Linked DNA regions of Homo sapiens: all the other regions are linked to region 1. Evidence: fine-mapped expression QTL. A gene starts in region 1. Each other region holds a variant in brackets. All regions are shown on one strand. Distances are between the middles of the regions. Region 1 holds the start of SLC39A1 (solute carrier family 39 member 1). Region 2 overlaps GATAD2B (GATA zinc finger domain containing 2B). Region 3 has its middle 17 kb from the start of S100A2.

The links. PIP is the estimated chance that this variant, and not a neighbour inherited with it, causes the effect.
Region 2: its variant is the best candidate, but not a certain one, in a credible set for the expression of SLC39A1 in monocytes (Fairfax 2014, PIP 0.87).
Region 3: its variant is the best candidate, but not a certain one, in a credible set for the expression of SLC39A1 in monocytes (BLUEPRINT, PIP 0.56).

Annotation. Positions count from the first base shown.
Region 1 is chr1:153,961,863-153,966,210 of GRCh38, forward strand. SLC39A1 (solute carrier family 39 member 1) reads right to left here and starts at 1,675. Exons shown (of 4, transcript NM_001271958.2): 1 at 1,633-1,675; 2 at 667-885; 3 at 358-488. The coding sequence starts at 853. It overlaps MIR6737 (microRNA 6737), which reads right to left and starts at 558; the gene lies at 489-558. RefSeq lists enhancers at 959-1,913, 1,242-1,311, 1,263-2,462, 1,352-1,411, 1,562-1,731 and 1 more.
Region 2 is chr1:153,876,110-153,880,109 of GRCh38, forward strand. All of the region lies in intron 1 of GATAD2B (GATA zinc finger domain containing 2B), which reads right to left. Among named protein-coding and RNA genes, the nearest start is that of GATAD2B, 45 kb to the right of the region's middle. The variant CT/C (reference allele first, on the strand shown) is at 2,053.
Region 3 is chr1:153,580,617-153,584,964 of GRCh38, forward strand. No RefSeq gene overlaps it. Among named protein-coding and RNA genes, the nearest start is that of S100A2, 17 kb to the left of the region's middle. RefSeq lists an enhancer at 2,467-3,391. The variant T/G (reference allele first, on the strand shown) is at 2,326.

The DNA.
Region 1 (4,348 bases):
TTCTCAGGCCTACAGAGACCTCTATCTCCAGCCCTTTAGGAAAGTGGTGAGAGAGTGAAGATGATTCTTGGAGCACTTGCTGGTAGCTAGAACTGAGAACCCATAGAGCAAGTCACACACCTGAGAAAAAGTGTCTTACTGTCTCAACGGGAATGTAGGGGTCACACAGGGAATGGGGAAGGGGGAGGGAACACATAGAAAGAATTATGCCCCATAACCAAAAATCACAATTCATACCACATGCCAAAAGTCTTCCACACAGTCATGGAGTGGCACATGAATCAATCTCCACAAACCAACACTCCCAGAGGTGTGTGATTCCCCTCCCGCAAGTCACATGCCCAGGCCAGTGCTCACCGTCACGTGCAAGGCTGCCAGGGCCTCATCTATGGCAGCCAGGTAGTCAGGCAGCAGGTCCAGGAGACAAGTGGCCAAAAAGACGCCCCCCGCGAAACAGCTTACTAGGCTCAGGGCTTTCTGGCGGGAAGCTGGGTAGGGGTGAAGCACAGAGGGGAATAAGCAAACAAACCCCCTCCAGGGCCGACCACCCCAACCCAAACAATGGCTACCCTTGCCTTTCCCTCCTCCTTTGGTCACTCCCCGCCAGCCCCAGAGCCCTCCCTAAGCCAAGCATTCATAGCAGTGTGGGGAAAAGGAGAGGCTTACCTGAGCCTTCATGGTTAGCTCCTGGCCGGCGCAGCACACAGATGGGCACCAGGCTGCAGAGGAGGGTGAGCACCAGCAGCAGCACCAGGGCCCCCAACTTCACCTCCAGCCCCACAGGCACTGGAGGCTCTGAAGCTACCGCCTCGGGGCGCCACACCAGGAGCTCTGGCTCTCCCCAGGGCCCCATGATGCTTCTGGTAGCTCCAGTGACTCTCAGACCTAGGAAGACAGACCAGAGTGGTTGGGAAAAATCATGCAAAGGAAGATGGGGCAAGGAATGGGGAAGCTTGGTCAGCAGAGTGCAGCTCCCTGGCCCCAGCCACTTTGTGACCTTCCCCTACCCAGGGTGACTCATCTACTCCTGTACCAGGAACATTCCTCTCTTCTCACACTTTCTTTCCCAAGTGACTTATTCAGGGAGACTGCACGGGGGAAACCGAGGCATGAGAAAGGCTGTATGGATATCTCATCACCCTTTCACCTGGTGCCCCCAGAAAACTAGGAAACTAGGAGCCGCCTCCAAATAGGACCTGGAGCTGGAGTTCCCCTAAGGAATGTAGAGGCCGGGTCCCCAACTCCCGAACGGAGTGGGTGAAGCCAAAAAGGCTAGGGCTGTGCAGAGATGTCTTGGGTAGCTTCGTGGGCCACCTGGACAGGGTAAGTTTGGGTGCTGGATCGCTCCATCGTTCCCCTTTTCCCAGCGCAGAGAACAAGCGCTTCAGGCCCCAGGATGGGACCTAGAGGCAGATGGCCAAAGAGAGGGGCCCTAAGAGTCTGCGGTCCCGGGACGGACTGAGGCGACACTGAGGGCGGTGCCTGAAAGTCCGGGCTCCAGGAGGCGGGGTGCGAGGCCGCCAAGCGTCGCGGGAAGCAGATGAAGAATGCGTGAGCTGGGACTCCTGTTCCCGGGCCCGGGGAGGCCTGGGCAGCCGACATGGACCCCGCTGCCAGACAGCCCGCACTCACCTCGCGAGGGTCTCACTACATGGTCTCCGCGCGCTTCCGGCCTAGAGTCGGGAATTCCCGCCCCCTCCCATAGCTCCCCCCTCCCCCACAGGAGCCGCGTACCCACGACCGACTGCCAATGGCAGCACCGAGTGGGCGGGGACAGACCGGGAGTGACGTCAGTTAGGAGCAATCAGAGATCGGGAGCGGGAGCGGGCGGAGCAGGCGACCTGAGGAGAGTGAGCGAGAGCAAGAGCGGATATTAGGAAAAGGACCTCGGGGCTGGGGCCCTGGGGCGCATCTGTGGAGGACTGAGGGGCCGGAGCGGGCCAGTCAACAAAGGCTTTGATTATATGGATATTTTTAAAAGAGGGAGACCCCGCATTGTCAAGTCTTCCGGCCCACATCTGAAAACATCTTCCTGGCCTTGGGCCAAAGTCTCATCTGTCCCTCAGAAGGCTCTGACACCTCGTCAGTGCCTCTTGGCGCCCAAGGGAAAGCATTCCCCTCTTGGGACCAACTTCCTTGACTGCTTTCCCTCACCAGCACCCACAACAAGGAAAAAGACAAGGCAGAATTGGAAAGGGGGGAAAGCAAAGAGAGGGTATGTCTTGAAAATCATCCCTTCTCGACTACTTATGGCACTCAGTGCAGCCTCCGCCTTCTCCAGGTGGGTGGGGACGTGGTGGGACCGGAATGCGGGGTGCTGAAGCCGCGCCCAGGGAAGAGCCCCCAGCGCATTCCAGGATATCTGCGTACCGCGCCTGCGGGCGTCTGGCCGGTTCTCCCACCTGATTTCCAGCCCAGCTCCCGCCACCCTCGCCGGTCGGTTTGCTGTTTGCTGTTCCTTGAATGCCCCAAGGTAGTTGTTTCAGCTCAGGACTTTCACCGTTTCCTCAACCTGGATTCTTGTGGCCCACAACTCTGTGCCTTGAGAATCCTCTTCTAGCCTCAAGGGACGGTAAGACAAAAGAAAATTTAAAAAGGGGGCTCAGCTGTTCTTTTATGCAAAGGTGAAAAAAGCTTCATTGCCTAAAGAAGGGACAGATGGGATCTTGCTTCCTACAGGAAAATTAATTTTAAAAAAGAAAAAAAAAAGGGGGGACAGTGTAATGCTTCTCACAAGGCTCCAGAAACGAAGCCCAGTAATTCCTTAAGTAAAAGAGGAATGTGAAGACTTCTTAAGGGGCCGGGCGCGGTGGTTCACGCCTGTAATCCAAGCACTTTGGAAGGCCGAGGATGAATCACCTGAGGACAGAAGTTCAAGACCAGCCTGGTCAACATGGTGAAACCCCGTCTCTACTAAATATACAAAAATTAGCCGGGCGTGGTGGCGGGGGCCTGTAATCCCAGCTACTCGGGAGGCCGAGGCAGGAGAATCGCTTGAACCCGGGAGCCGGAAATTGCAGTGAGCCGAGATCGCGCCATTGCGCTCCAGCCTGGGCAACAACAGCGAAACTTCGTCTCAAAAAAAAAAATTATTCGTAATTGGTAACATTAACAAGGAATTATGACTGGGGGGGTCAGGAAACCTGGATTCTGGTCCAAGTTCTACCTTTATAGTTGTCAAATATATATATTTGTTTATTTATACACATACATATGTCATATATGATTAATAATTGTATATATTTATGGTGTACAACATGATGTTTTGAAATATATGTACATTGGGCCGGGCGCGGTGGCTCACGCCTGTAATCCCAGCACTTTGGGAAGCCGAGGCGGGCAGATGACGAGGTCAGGAGTTGGAGACCAGCCTGCTCAACATGGTGAAACCCTGTCTCTACTAAAAATACAAAAATTAGCCAGGCGTGGTGGCGCATGCCTATGATCCCAGCTACTCAGGAGGCTGAGGCAGGAGAATCGCTTGAACCGGGGAGGCGGAGGTTGCAGTGAGCCAAGATCACACCTCTGCACTCCAGCCTGGACGACACAGCGAGACTCCGTCTCAAAAAAAAAGAAAAAAGAAAAGAAATATATGTACATTGCAGAATGGGTAAATCAAGCTAATTAACATATGCATTACTTCACATATTTATTTGTGATGAGAACATTTAAAATCTCTTGGCAACTTTATTTCTTTTCTTTTTCCTTCCTTCCTTCCTTTCTTCTTTCCTCCTTTCTTTCTTGACAGAGTCTTGCTGTGTTGCCCAGGCTGGAATGCAGTGGCATGCTCTTGGCTCACTACAACTTCTGCCTCCCAGGTTTCAAGCAATTCTCCCGCCTCGGCCTCCCGAGTAGCTGGGATTACAGGCGCCCGCCACCACGCCCGGCTAATTTTTGTATTTTTAGTAGAGACGGGATTTCACCATGTTGACCAGGCTGGTCTTGAACTCCTGACCTCAGGTGATCCACCCGCTTCAGCCTCCCAAAGTGCTGGGACTGCAGGTGTGAGCCACCACACCCGGCCCAATAGATCTCCTCAATTTTACCTTACCTTGATGTATGATTTTAGGCAAGTCAGTTTTCCTCACCAGAGTTTGATAAATCAGGGGCAAGGAGGAAGTTAAACAAGCAGATGACTGCAGAGGGTCCTTCCAGTTCTAACATCAACGGAAGCTAACTACATTCCCCACTCAAATCATCTCTGCACATACAGCCCGCAGGAAGCCCTTTGAAATGTATTTAACCACCTTTCTCGCTCTCAGAATGATCTCAACAAGAACAGCTTTGCTTTCCTTGGAGCTCTGCATCAATCTAGGAAGGCTGCTTTGTCTCTTCACTACTTGAGCAG
Region 2 (4,000 bases), 86 kb before region 1:
CCCAGCTACTCAGTAGGCTGAGGCAGGAGAATCGCTTGAACCCGGGAGGCGGAGACTGCAGTGAGCTGAGATCGCGCCACTACACTCCAGCCTGGGCAACACAGTGAGACTTCGTCTCAAAAAAAAAAAAAAAAAAAAAAAAAAAAAAAAAGATTTCACAGTCCTTAAATGGCTGGGCGTGGTTAAAACACAGGACTGTCTTACCTGAGTCAATGTCCTTAACCATCGTACTATGCTATCTATATTGTCATTTTTGGTTTCCGATCCAACCAGACTGGTAAGAGAGTAATTCTTATGAAAGACTATTACTGTTTACATGCTCTTACAGTGTCTTTTCTGTATCACTGAGTTTACTACACAAACCTTTGGCTCACATTCTTGAAAGAAAGAGCCTAGATGACCTTGCAGTGGGTAACATACTGCTCAGTAATATGCACCAAGGATTGTAAAGGTCGCTATGCTTAAATGTGACAAGTTAGAGTGTGCTGCCTAGAGGTAATGAACAGGAGGTAAACAGCTTTCTCCTACTGTCACCTTACAAATCAGCACAGAAGTTCTGACATACACGAAAGCAAATGTGCCAGACAATCATTTAGAAAAGGTGATATGAGAGGTCAGGGCGGTGGCTCATGCCTATAATCCCAATACTTTGGGAGGCCAAGGCGGGCAGATCACCTGAGGACAGGAGTTTGAGACCAGCCTGGCCAACATGGTGAAACCCCGTCTCTACTAAAAATACAAAAATTAGCTGGGCATGGTGGCAGGCGCCTGTAATTTCAGCTACTCGGGAGGCTGAGGCAGGAGAATCACTCGAACCTGGTGAGGGGAGGGCGGCGGGTGGAGGTTACAGTGAGCCAAGATCGTGCCACTTCACTCCAGCCTGGGTGAAAGGCGAGACTCCGCCTCAAAAAAGAAAAGAAGAACAGGCAGTATTAGAGTGAAAGGTTCTTTGCATTGGCCCATGCCTATAATCCCAGCACTTTGGGGGGCTAAGGCAGAAGGACTGCTTAAGGCCAGGAGTTTGAGACCAGCCTGGGAAAAACAGTGAGCCTCTGTCTCTACCAAAAATAATAATAATGAAATTAGCCAGGCATGGTGACATGCCTATAGTCAGTCCTAGCTACTTGGGAGGCTGGGGCAAAAGGATCACTTGAGCCCAGGAGTTCAAGGCTGCAGTGTGCTATGATCACACTACTGCACTCCAGCCTGGGCAACAGAGTGAGACCCTGTCTCTAATAAATAAATAGAATTAAAGGGACAGACGTGGCCAAAGGGCAGATTTCACATACACTTCAAAATTACTCTTCAGCCACTCCAAAACAGCAATTAAGGCCTATGAGAGTTAAGAAAAAAAAAAAAATTTCTCATCTATCCTTTAAGAGAAGGTACTGGTTTATGCCTTGCTGATTATGACTACATAATCACTAAGATTATCCTCACTAATCTGGCTCCTAACATCAAGAGAAAAGGTAAAAATAAAGGATATAGCTGGACATGGTGGCTCATGCCTGTAATCCCAGCACTTTGGGAGGCTGAGGTGGGGCAACTGCTTGAGCTCAAGAGTTCCAGACCAGCCTGACCAACATGGTGAAACCTCGTCTCTACTAAAAATACGAAAATTAGCCGGGTGTGGTGGCACATGCTTATAATCCCAGCTACCTGGGAGGCTGAGGTGGGAGGATCACTTGAATCCAGGAGGCAGAGGCTGCAGTGAGCTGAGATCATGCCACTGCACTCCAGCCTGGGCAACAGAGTGAGACTCCATCTCAAAAAAACTTAAAAAAAAAAAAAAAAAAGGGTAATTATTACTTCTAAGAACTAGGTAATCCCACAACAACAATGAATGAATCTTTACCTAGCCTCTAGGTTGTAGCAAGTTTGGTCTGTTGCTATTTTGTCTTTCAGTACTCAACAGACTAGGAAATAATACTCCTTAGTTTACTTATAAAGGGACTTAGAAAAGTAGGCTCCAGCTCCTTGGGGTGGGGAAATAATTGCAGGCAGCCTGGGGAATAAGCAGAACAACCATTGTGGTAGGTCCCATCCTGCAAT[CT/C]TTTTTTTTTTTTCTTTTTTTTTTGAGACAGGGTCTCACTTTGTTTTCCAGGCTAGAGTGCAGTGGTGCAATCATGGCTCACTGCAGCCTCCCACCCCAGCCTCCCGAGTAGCTAGGACCACAGGCACATGCCACGACTAATTTTTTGTAAAGATGGAATCTCCCTATGTTGCCCAGGCTGGTCTCAAACTCCTGAGCTCAAGCAATTCTGCGATGGTCTCCCAAGGTGCTGGGATTACGGCTGTGAGCCACTGTGACCAGCTCATCCTACAATCCTTAAAGAAAGTAATAACCTCATATTCACTTCCTAACAAAAGGAAAAAAAGCACAGATATTAACACCAAAAAATACAGACGTTCAAAGACTATTGCTTGTAAAGATGTGGCAAGAAGAGAAATTTACAGGCTTTAACAAAAATATACAAGTTCCCAATCAAATTAAGGAATTTCCTCTAGACTGCAACCTGATAAAAACTCTTACTACAGGATTAACGAGTTTGAAAGTTCCCTCTCATTCCCAACTCTCCCCATCAGTGCTGTTATTCTGAATGGTCAGAAGCAAAAATAAACTCACATAAAACCAACTGTAACAGTGTGACCCATACTTTATTCCTTTTTTTTTTTTTTTTTTTTTGAGACAGAGTATTGCTGTGTCGCCCAGGCTGGAGTGCAGTGGTGCAATCTAGGCTCACTGCAACCTCCACCTCCCAGGTTCAAGAAATTCTTCTGCCTCAGGCTCCCGAGTAGTTGGGATTACAGGTGCCCACCACCATGCCTGGCTAATTTTTTTTTTTCTTGAGACAGTCTTGCTCTGTCGCCCAGGCTGAAAGTGCAGTGGTACGATCTTGGCTCACTGCAACCTCCGCCTCCCGGGTTCAAGCGATTCTCCTGCCTCAGCCTCCCGAGTAGCTGGGACTACAGGCGCAAGCCACCACGCCCGGCTAATTTTTTGTATTTTCAGTAAAGACAGGGTTTCACTGTCTTAGCCAGGATCGTCTCTTATCTCCTGACCTCGTGATCCGCCCGCCTCAGCCTCCCAAAGTGCTGGGATTACAGGCATGAGCCACCACACCTGGCCAATTTTTTTATTTTTAGTAGAGATAGGGTTTCACCTTGTTGGCCAGGCTGATCTCAAACTCCTGACCTCATGTGATCCACCCACCTCGGCCTCCCAAAGTGCTGGGATTACAGGCATGAGCCACCGCTCTCGGCCCCATACTTTATTCTTTAATATACTTTCTCATTTTCACCTAACACAAAAGCTGCTTCATAAATATCACACCTAGGAGGCACATAAAGAGAATTTAAGAAAAGACATCAGGCCGGGTGCAGTGGCTCACGCCTGTAATCCCAGAACTATGGGAAGTCAAGACGGGCGGATTATGAGGTCAAGAGATCGAGACCATCCTGGCCAACATGGTAAAAACCCCGTCTCTACTAAAAATACAAAAATTAGCTGGGCATGGTGGCGCAGGCCTGTAGTCCCAACTACTCAGGAGGCTGAGGCAGGAGAATCGCTTGAACCCAGGAGTCGGAGGTTGCAGCGAGCCAACAATGCGCCACTGCACTCCAGCCTGGCAACAGAGCGAGACACTGTCTACAAAAAAAAAAAAAAAAAAAAAGACATCATACTAAACTGAGCAGAATTATAATTTCTAAATGAATGCTGATCCCCTAATTGCCAATGAAAGACACAATCACTACAACTGAACCCCAAAATTGTAACACTTGCAATGCATGGACACTTAGAACAATCTCTAATTTTTCCTTCCTTCCATGTGCTGTTTGACTGTCCTTTTGTACAATTCTAACTCTGGCAGATGGCAGGGAAAGAATACCGCATTTTGATAATATCATACTAAACAGAAAAGAAGAAATAAAAAAGAAGGGGGAGTCTCGAATGAGTAGTTAATAGATATTACTTGCTCTATTATCTGGCTTTTTGCTT
Region 3 (4,348 bases), 380 kb before region 1:
TTTCAAACATAAAATAAATAAAATAAAATAAATACTTGACTCCAGATCTAATGGACACACCCACCTTTTTTTTTTTTTTTTTTTTTTTTTTTTTTTTTTTTTTTTGAGATGGCCTCACTCTGTTGCGCAGGCTGGAGTGCAGTGGCACAATCATGGTTCACTGCAGCATTGACCTCCCTGGGCTCAGGTGATCCTCTCACCTCAGCCTCCAAGTAGCTGGGACTACAGGTGTGCACTACCATGCCTGGCTAATTTTTATTTTATTTATTTATTTTTTTTAAGACCGAGTCTCACTCTGTTGCCCTAATTGGAGTGCAGTGGCGCCATATCGGCTCACTGCAACCTCCGCCTGCTGGGTTCAAGCGATTCTCCTGCCTCAGCTTCCCAAGTAGCTGGGATTATAGGCACAAGCCACCACGTCCAGCTAATTTTTTATTTTTAGTAGAGATGGGGTTTCACCACGTTGGCCAGGCTGGTCTCAAACTCCTGACCTCAGGTAATCCGCCCGCCTCGGCCTCCCAAAGTGCTGGGATTACAGGATTAAGCCACCACGCCCAGCTAATATTTTTTTGTAGAGACAGGGTTTCCTCATGTTGCCCAGACTGGTCTCGAACTCCAGGCTCAAGTGCGCCACTGACCTTGGCCTCTCAAAGTGCTGGGATTACAGGTGTGAGCCACTGTTCCCAGCCAGGCACATCATGTTCTAAGAAAAGAAAATGATCCAGACTTATCAAAGCCAGGACATATTCTGATAAAGTTATTGCGTTAAGGAAAAATAGCTAGACTTCCATTTCTATCGATTATTTTTCTTTTCTTTCTTTTTTTCTTTTGTTTGTTTGGTTTTTTTTTTTATTTTCAACAGGGGCTTCTGCAATAGAATCTATCTGGTTAAAACATGACAGTGATACTTTTTTTATTTCACAGCTAAGTTCACATTAAAGTAAAGAAAACCCTTCTAGGCCCAAAGCGAAGGGGAAACTAAAAACCAATTAGGCGTGAGTTAATGCTACAGCTGTTCTTGGGAAGGGACGGTTTCTAATCTCAGAAAACAAGGGGCTTCAGTTTTCAAGGACCAATCGTGAAGAGATGGGTCCTTATAACTGCAAGTATCTGGGAATCCGAAAGCCACCTTACATGAAGCAAGGTGCCCCAAGTACCACTTTCTTGGTGAAAGAATGGGCTGAAAGAAAAAACCTCTCATGAGCAAAATGAGATTTCGAGGAAGCTTGTACGTCTTCGCCTGGGCTCTGGATGGAGAAAGTTTTCTTAGAGAAATTTTAACCTTGGGCCTGTCTTCATGCAGATTTGGGATTTTAGTTTACATGGCTGGAATGGTTCAGAAAACCCCAAAGCCAAGAAGTCAACATAAAAAGTAATACTAAACTGGTTTTGGCCTTGGGGCACTTGGGAAAAGCAAAACAAAATTACTTTGAAGACTTATACTCTTAAACCAGATTAACCAGGATTCCCCCAGCTAAAGCTGAGGTTGACATTTTTTAAATTAGATGAAATAGGCAGCTTTGCAGGAAAAAAAATTATATATATGTAAATTTTATATATATGTAAATTATTTATATGTAAAGCTGACCAACATTGACTAAGAAGGAGAAAATCTGAAGACCTATAATCATTAAAGAAATTGATTAGCAGTATAAATCTACCTAACAAAGATAAAATTGATGGTTTTCATAGACAAGTTTACCAAATAAGAAAAAAAATCCTTTTCCACGGTCTCCCTCTGATGCCAAGCCGAAGCTGGACTGTACTGCTGCCATCTCGGCTCACTGCAACCTCCCTGCCTGATTCTCCTGCCTCAGCCTGCCGAGTGCCTGCGATTGCAGGCGCGCGCCGCCACGCCTGACTGGTTTTTGTATTTTTTTGGTGGAGACGGGGTTTCGCTGTGTTGGCCGGGCTGGTCTCCAGCTCCTAACCGCGAGTGATCCGCCAGCCTCGGCCTCCCGAGGCGCCGGGATTGCAGACGGAGTCTCGTTCACTCAGTGCTCAATGGTGCCCAGGCTGGAATGCAGTGGCGTGATCTCGGCTCGCTACAACCACCTCCCAGCCGCCTGCCTTGGCCTCCCAAAGAGCCGAGATTGCAGCCTCTGCCCGGCCGCCACCCCGTCTGGGAAGTGAGGAGCGTCTCTGCCTGGCTGCCCATCGTCTGGGATGTGAGGAGCCCCTCTGCCTGGCTGCCCAGTCTGGAAAGTGAGGAGCGTCTCTGCCCGGCCGCCATCCCATCTAGGAAATGAGGAGCGTCTCTGCCCGGCCGCCCATCGTCTGAGATGTGGGAAGCGCCTCTGCCCCGCCGCCCCGTCTGGGATGTGA[T/G]AAGCGCCTCTGCCCGGCCGCGACCCCGTCTGAGAAGTGAGGAGACCCTCTGCCTGGCAACCGCCCCGTCTGAGAAGTGAGGAGTCCCTCCGCCCGGCAGCCACCCCGTCTGAGAAGTGAGGAGCCCCTCCCTCCGTCAGCCACCCCGTCTGGGAAGTGAGGAGCGTCTCCACCCGGCAGCCACCCCCGTCCGGGAGGGAGGTGGGGGGGTCAGCCCTCCGCCCGGCCAGCCGCCCCGTCCGGGAGGTGCGGGGCGCCTCTGCCCAACCGCCCCTACTGGGAAGTGAGGAGCCCCTCTGCCCGGCCAGCTGCCCCGTCCGGGAGGGAGGTGGGGGGGGTCAGCCCCCCGCCCGGCCAGCCGCCCCGTCCGGGAGGTGAGGGGTGCCTCTGCCCGGCCGCCTCTACTGGGAAGTGAGGAGCCCCTCTGCCCGGCCACCACCCTGTCTGGGAGGTCTACCCAACAGCTCATTGAGAACCGGCCATGATGACAATGGCGGTTTTGTGGAATAGAAAGGGCGGAAAGGTGGGGAAAAGATTGAGAAATCGGATGGTTGCCGTGTCTGTGTAGAAAGTAGACATGGGAGACTTTTCATTTTGTTCTGTACTAAGAAAAATTCTTCTGCCTTGGGATCCTGTTGATCTGTGACCTTACCCCCAACCCTGTGCTCTCTGAAACATGTGCTGTGTCCACTCAGGGTTAAATGGATTAAGGGCGGTGCAAGATGTGCTTTGTTAAACAGATGCTTGAAGGCAGCATGCTCATTAAGAGTCAACACCACTCCCTAATCTTAAGTACCCAGGGACACAAACACTGCAGAAGGCCGCAGGGTCCTCTGCCTAGGAAAACCAGAGACCTTTGTTCACTTGTTTATCTGCTGACCTTACCTCCACTATTGTCCTATGGCCCTGCCAAATCCCCCTCTGCGAGAAACACCCAAGAATGATCAATTAAAAAATAAATAAATAAATAAATTTAAAAAAAAAAAAAACAAAAGTCAGCCAAAAAAAAAAAGAAAAAAAAATCATACAAACTTAAATTTCCAGAAAATAGAAAAAGGAAATACTGCCCATATGTGGCATATATAAAATAACCTTTATGGTAGAGACTGCTAATTGTCCTATTACCTATTCTCCCCTTGTCTTTCACAGCAAAAGAATCTTTGCTTTTAAGTTCAAATAAAGGCCACACTTCCCAGCCTTCCTTGCAGCTGAGTGTAGCCATATGACTAAGTTCTGGCCAAGAGAAGTAGAAATGGGGTATGCAAGTTTTGATTCATGCTCAAAAGTCAGAGACATGCCGTTTCTTCACCCTGCCACTTAGAAAGTACATGAGCTATTTGGACCATACGAACTAGGGGTGGTTAAGCAGAACCACCAAACCAGCCCTGGACCACCAACCTCCAGATAATACAGGACAGAAAAAAAAAACTTCCCTCTCATTCACGTCACCACTATTTTTGGTATCCGTTACATACAGCCAAACCCATGTACCAAGCAGATCATCCTACATACCAACACCAGAAATGTATCGTATGAGAAAGGAAAATTGAGACCCAATCTCACTTATGATTATAGATGCAAAATCCTAAATAAACTGTTAGCAAATGGAATCAAGTATTATACTTAAGAAAAATTATGACTAAGTTGGGTTTATGTCATGATTGCAGGGATGACTTTAACATTAGAAAATACATTAATGTAAGTCTCCACATTAAGAGATTAAAAATTAAAACCATATGATGATGCCAGAATAAATTCAATACCCATTTATAATAATAACGCTTAATAATCTAGGAATAGAAAGGAACATCTTGACCAACAAGCAAAAACCTACTGCAATCTTATTTTTTTTTTTTTAGTGGGGTTTCACCACGTTGCCCTCACTGGTCTCAAACTCCTGAGCTCAAAGGATCCACCTACCTCGGCCTCCCAAAGTGCTGGAATTACAGGCATGAGCCACCACACCCAGCCTGCAATCTTATTCTTAACATTAAATTATTCTTAACAGTAAATGAATGAACAG